Linked DNA regions of Homo sapiens. The protein of the gene in region 1 purifies or fractionates together with the protein of each later gene. This does not show direct contact. Each region holds a gene or a part of one and is shown on either strand. Other genes may lie near its edges.

What was found.
Region 2: the proteins of FOXN1 (region 1) and NR2F6 purify together in Homo sapiens (affinity purification with mass spectrometry; one large-scale study listed by BioGRID and IntAct). This does not show direct contact.

What each region holds. Positions count from the first base shown.
Region 1 is NC_000017.11:28,512,848-28,516,347, forward strand, and holds part of FOXN1 (forkhead box protein N1), read left to right. Parts: intron 1-3,500. UniProt on the Homo sapiens protein: Transcriptional regulator which regulates the development, differentiation, and function of thymic epithelial cells (TECs) both in the prenatal and postnatal thymus.
Region 2 is NC_000019.10:17,239,420-17,242,919, reverse strand, and holds part of NR2F6 (nuclear receptor subfamily 2 group F member 6), read left to right. Parts: intron 1-2,154; coding exon 2,155-2,249; intron 2,250-3,500. UniProt on the Homo sapiens protein: Transcription factor predominantly involved in transcriptional repression.

The sequences.
Region 1 (3,500 bases):
AAAGATCCCTGGAGGCCGAGGATGCTTAGGTGGGAGGTCTCTGTCAAGGAGCATCTAAGGAGTAGGAAGAACCCAGTAGGGCTGATCTCTCAGACTAGCAGAGGAGAGAAGGGGTCCTAGTAGGTATGTCTCAGAAAGGAATGGATGGAAGCTTTGAGGGGTAGCATTTCTTGTTTCCTTGAAACCAAACACCCCTTTCTTTCCATCTACAAAATAAACATCCCCAGCTTGGCCAACATGGCAAAACCCCATCTCTGCTAAAAATACAAAAGTTAACCAGACTTGGTGCTGCCCGCCTGTAATCCCAGCTTCTTGGGAGGCTGAGGCAGGAGAATCGCTTGAACCCAGGAGGTGGAGGTTGCAGTGAGCCAAGATTGCACCACTGCACTCCACCCTGGGTGACAGAGTGAGACTTTGTCTCAAACAAACAAACAAAAAAAACCAGAATAAACATTCACGGGTAGGTCAAGGACATCCATCCATCTATCCCACTAAATATTCATCCTTTACACTACAGATACTCACAGAAATAAAAATACTTAAAATAAAAAAATAAAACATTCATCTATCTGTCTGTTGATTTGTCCATCTGTCCAGCTTTCCATCCATCAATCTCTCCATCCGATGATCTGTCCATTCATCCAACTGTTCATCTTTACATACATAAATACATCTATCTATCCACCCATCCATCCAGAGAGGTCAGGCTCTAGTTGGCCTCCCCAGGGCTGCTAGGAAGGGCCTGTGGTCCTGTGGCATTTATGGGGCATGTGACCTGCCTGCCTGGCCTGGGGAGACAGCCCCGCCTCAGCCCTCGGGCAGGGGGCCGGTCCAGGCATGTGGGAGTATTTATACCTCGATGGAGGCTCCTGGGGAGCTGCAGGCTGAATGACTCCCCGAAGCGGTGATGGTGGCCATGACCCAGAGCCCACTGTGAGTGCTTGGATTTGGCTCCTTTGGGGCCATGGCTGGGTGGCAGAGGTTAGAGAGGGGCTGGAGAGACGGGAAGGTGCCCAGAGGCAGCCAGGGATGGCGAAAAGGAAGGGGTGCTGGGCAAAGGAGAGTGGGAGACTGGTTGCTGTTGGAGTCAGGCATCTGAAGCAAAGCTGGGACCCTCCCTGCAGAAGGGATGAGTCTATTGCCCTTAAAGAGGCTCTGGTGGGTGGCTTGGTGAATGGCAGGAAGGACAGGACAAGAGGACTAAGATTACAATAAATAGGGATTAGAGATCTGGAAGAACCTCCAGGTCGGCCCAAGGCTCAAGTGCTTTTCCAGGATGGGCGTACTAGGCAATGCTCTGGGACCAGCCTGCTTCCAGAGGCACATGGGAATGCTGAAGAGTCTTTAGGAGAAGCCTGATTTGGGGACTGGAATGACTCAGCTGCAGGTGTCGGTGGCTCACATGGAGGAAAGCGTCACCTGGGGGACATGGTGGCTTTTCATCCTTTGTTCTCCCCACTCCCCTCCCTGCCCATTCTGTCCCTACCTGCTCTGTACTTGAGTCAGATCTCAAGGCAGGGGCACGCAACCCATTTTCCGAAACTGATGCTGGGTTAAGAGCCAGGGAGGCCAGAATTTTGCCCTCAGAACTTCCAACATTGATGGGGAGAAAGGAGCTAGAAACCCCCTCTTTCTTGGCATTCCCAGACCCCGAGTTTCCTTGGGTGCCCAAGCCTCAGGCAGAGCCCCCAGGTCCTTCCCTGCCACCCCCATAATTGCCGAGCTGCTCCAGGGGACCCCTCCCAGCAGCCTGTCGGGTGGAGCCCTGGGTGGGGCTACAGGCCAGCACCCGGCCGGCCGAGCCCCACCCCTCGTAAAACATGCTGCCGCAGCCAGCAACAGAAACCATTAAGGTGGAACTGAGCCGTCCCCACCTCACTCATAAAGAGTGGGTAGGAGGCCGCCAGGTGGGAGGCAGCAGGGAGCGTGAAGAGAGCCTGGGGAGGACCCTTGGTGCCCCAGGCCTGTCTGTCCCTGTGATTCAGTTGCCCACAGGGGAGGCAGGGACAGACCCTCCCAAGGAAACCTCCAACGTCGCCCCCACCCACCTTTCAGGCTTGAGCAGGGAGGCTGAGGCGTTACCAAGGTGGGGCCGTGTAGCGTAATGGTTCAGCATGCTGGCTTTGAAGCCCGGGTTGGAATCCTGGGGAGCATAATATACTAGCTGAGTGAACTTGGGCAAGTCAGGTTAACTTCTCTGAGTCTCAGTTTCCTCATCTATAAAATGGGATGATAATACAGCTCCTCCTTCCTGGGGTGTAAAAACTCAGCCAAGTCTTCCTGATCTCCTTGAGGATGTCCTCAGGGGCGCCCCACATAAAGGCAGAGGAGGGGTGAGGTCCCTGCTGACAGCTCTGTGGGCCAGATACACCTTTACAGGGTACATATCTCCACAGGGTACACACCTCTATGAGGTACACACCTCCACAGGGTACACACTTCCACAGGGTACATACCTCCAAAGAGTACAGAGTACATACCTCCACAGGGTACACACCTCCACAGAGTACACCCCTTCATAGGTGTACACATCTCCACAGGGTACACCCTCCACAGGTGTGCACATTTCCAAAGGTGTATACACTTCCACAGGTGAACATACCTCCACAGGTGAACACACTTCCACAGGGTACATACTTCCATAGGTGAACATACTTCCACAAGTGTACACCCCTTCACAGAGGTACACCCCTCCATGTGGTACATGCTTCTACAGGGTACACACTTCCACAGATGAACATACCTCCACAGGCTACACATCTCCACAGGTGTACACCCCTCCAAAAGTATAGACTTCCACAGGTGTACACACCTCCACAGGGTATACAGTTCCATTGGTGAATATACCTCCACAGGTGTACACTCCTCAACAGGTATACACCCCTCCACAAGTATACACACTTTCACAGGAGTACACCCCTCCACAGTGTACATACCTCCAAAGGTGAACACCATTCCCCAGGTGTATACACCTCCACAGATATACATACCTTCACAGGCGTACACACCTCCACAGGGTACACACTTCCACAGGTGAACATATCTCTACAGTGTCCATACCTTCACAGGGTACACATTTCCACAGGTATACCCTCCTCAACAGGTGTACACCCCTCCACAAGTATACACATTTCCACAGGGGTACACACCTCCAGAGGATCCATACTTCCACAGGGTATACAACTCCACAGGATCCATAACTCCACAGGATACACACCTCCACAGGATCCATACCTCCACAGGGTACACATCTCCACAGGGTACACACCTCCACAGGATCCTTACATCCACAGGGTACACATCTCCACAGGATCCATACCTCCACAGGGTACACACCTCCACAGGGTACACACCTCCACAGGATCCATAGCTCCAAAGGGTACACATCTCCAGAGGATACACATCTCCACAGAATCCATACCTCCACAGGGTACACACCTCTACAGGGTACACACTGCCACAGGATCCACACCTCCACAAGGTACACACCTCCACAGGTT
Region 2 (3,500 bases), on another chromosome or scaffold:
GAAGCTGAGTTGGGCCATGGGGTTGGGCAAAAAAGCTTGCACTCTTTAGGTGGGATAACAGGAAGAACTTAACTGTTTCCCTCCTTGGAGGGATGGATCTGTCCCAATTCCACAGCTGGGGAAGTTGAGACTGAAGGTTCAGGGCCTCCCCTGAGGTCAGGGGCCCCTGAGCTGGGCCTCTGCCTGCCTGCAGGGCCGCCCCAGGCCAGGCCGTTTCCACCCGGCTGCCCTGGACCCTCCCACCACCCAGCCGCTGGGCTTTGTTCTGGTTCTGCCTGAGCTCCCTCTGCCCTAGTGGGGCCTCTTCCCAGGGGCTCAGTGGCTGGTGCTGCAGGACCCAGGCAGTGGTGGAGGGGGGGTACGGGGGAGTGGGCGCAGATCCTCAGCTTTCCTAAGTTGGGTTCTCCGGCTGGGCTCTGGGTCTTGGCACTGTCCCCCGTGAACCCCTCTGACCCAGTCCATCCCATATGATAGGGCAATATCTGACCTCCCATTTTCAGATGAGGAAACCGAGGCTCAGTGGGGCAGTCGCCACCTGAGGGGCAGGGCTGGGTATCTGCAGCTGAGATTCATCTGTTTTGTTTTGTTTTGTTTTGTTTTTGAGACGGAGTTTCACTCTTGTTGCCCAGGCTGGAGTGCGATGGCGTGATCTCAACTCACTGCAACCTCTGCCTCCCGGGTTCAAGCGGTTCTCCTGCCTCAGCCTCCCAAATAGCTGGGATTACAGGCATGCGCCACCATGCCCGGCTAATTTTGTATTTTTAGTAGAGACAGGTTTTCTCTATGTTGTTCAGGCTGGTCTCAAACTCCCAACCTCAGGTGATCCGCCCGCCTCGGCCTCCCAAAGTGCTGGGATTACAGGCATGAGCCACTGCACCCAGCCTTTTTTTTTTTCTTTTTTTTTGAGACAGAGTCTCACTCTGTCACCCTGGCTGGAATGCAGTGGGTCAATCTTGGCTCACTGCAACCTCCACCTCCCCAGTTCAAGCGATTCTCCTTCCTCAGCCTGCCAAGTAGCTGGGATTACAGGCATGCGCCACCACGCCCAGCTCATTTTTGTATTTTTAGTAGAGACGGGGTTTCACCATGTTGGCCAGGCTGGTCTTGAACTGACCTCAGGTGATCCACCCTCCCCCGCCTCCCAAAGTGCTGGGATTACAGGCGTGAGCCACTGCAGAGATGCATCTGTTTAATTCCCTTAAGTGGTGGTTCTACTCTGTGACTGTCTCTGTGTGTCCCCTGGGTGTCCAGCTGGAACCCCAGGGGTAGTTGCTCCAGGCCCAGGCCTTGGAGAGCCCCCAGCTCCTGGTGGCAAGAGACCAGGGGAGTCCAAGGGCAGGGGCCAAGGGGAGAAGGTTCTGGGGACATTTGAAGAATAAGGCCTGGACCTTCCTGCTTGGGGGCTGACCCAGGATGGGGAGCTCACCACCTCTCAGGGTGGGGCCACCTGTCTCATCCCTGCAAGAGGCAACGGCATTCACTGAGGGCTGACCAGGAAAATCTCCAGCTTGCATAGGGGTTGGGTGGTCCTCTCGGAAGAGCGTAGGTGTGGGGCCTTCAGGGCTGAGGACCAGAGTGACTTTGTTTACTTCCTCATTCCTTGGGGTGGGCATTGTGCGGGTGATAATGCTGGGGCCCCACAATGCTATGACCCCACAGACCACTAGCCCCTGGCCTGACCCCTAGTTAATTCACAAAGTCCAGCTCTCTGACCATGTCCTCTTTGCCTTCACATCTTTTTGGGGACAATGACCCTGCTCAGCCTGACAGTGACCAAATAAAATGAAACTCTTTAGGCCTCCATATTTGTGTATTTCAACCCTTTTGCTCTGGCTGTACCCTCTCTCTGGGATCACCCCGCCATTCACCTGGAGAACTCCTATTCATCCTTCAAAACCCATGCCAATGTGCCCTCCCTGGGGTGTTCATCTGCTTTTCCACAGATTCCTCTTCATCCATCACCACTCATCCGGGTTATCCTGTCTGGTTTGCAGACCTGCAAGCTGAGCTCCTGTACCCCTTTGGGGCTACCTCTCCAGTCTAGAGGGCCCCTACTAGTATTTCTGAGGGGCAGCCTCCAAAGGCGGCTCATAGGCTGGTTCGGGGAGGAGGATATGGGGGTCTCAGGGAGCCCTGGCTTCTGTGTGCCCCCAGGTCCAACCGTGACTGCCAGATCGACCAGCACCACCGGAACCAGTGCCAGTACTGCCGTCTCAAGAAGTGCTTCCGGGTGGGCATGAGGAAGGAGGGTGAGTACGTGCTGGGGACACACTGGGGACGATCACAGCCGCTGGAGCCGGGGTGAACAAACAGCTTCTTCCTCCCCTTTTTCCCCTCCCTTTCACCCCTCCCTTTCACAGGGGTCTGGGTGCCTCACAGGGTGGGGGCCGGCGCCTGCTAACCTCATTACCACTGATCCCTTGATCCCGTGGGCTGCAGTCTGGCCCTAGGCTGGAGGAATCCAATTAGGATCCGTGGCCCCCTGGTTGCTGCCGTGGAGCTGAAGAGGCCAGGGACGCCCCACAAGGGACTTTCCCCAGCCCCATTCTCTTGCAGGAGCTGCCTTCCCCAATTACCCCCGACTCCAGCCTCAGAGGCCAGTTCCCTGGCCCTGACACCTTGGTGACCTCTTGTCTGCTAGCGCGGCCACCGCGTTCTGAACAAGGATTTTTTTTTTTATTTGATTTGTTTCTCCTCCACCCTTCACCCATGCTTTTTGTTTGCCCAAGGCAGGAACTCTGCCCGATTAAGGCAAAGGGCAGCTTACCCTTTCTTCTGACCCCGGGCGCTGGGAGCAAGAGTGAGGCCCAGCTGTCTCTGCTCAGGGGACCCAGGTGGACGGGCGTATTCTGGGCTGCTGGGCCTAGAACTCTGCCAAACCCCCTTAGAATTCAAGTAGAACCCAGAGATTTCTGCATGGATTTCTGGGGTTCAGGAATAGAATCTAGCCTATTGGACGAGATCTCCTGTGCTGGGTTTCAGGTTCCTCTGGGGACTGTGTCGTGGGCCAGGCTGGCAGTTCTTTCTAATGTCTAACCTGAGCCTCCCCTGCTTTGAAGTTTTTTTTTCCTTATTTTCTTTATTTATTTTTATTTTTATTTGAGATGGAGTCTCGCTCCATCTTCCAGGCTGGAGTGCAGTGGTGTGATCTCAGCTCACTGCAGCCTCCGCCTCCCGGGTTCAAGTGATTGTCCTGCCTCAGCCTCCCGAGTAGCTGGGACTACAGATACGGGCCAACACGCCCAGCTAATTTTTTTTTTTTTTCTGAGACTGAGTCTTGCTCTGTCGCCCAGGCTGGAGTGCAGTGGCATGATCTCGGCTCACTGCAGGCTCCGCCCCCTGGGTTCACGCCATTCTCCTGCCTCAGCCTCCGGAGTAGCTGGGACTACAGGCGCCTGCCATCTCGCCCGGATATTTTTGTATTTTTAGTAGAGACGGGGTTTCACCATGTTAGCCAGGATGGTCTCGATCTCCTGACCTCGTGATCTGCCTGCCTCAGC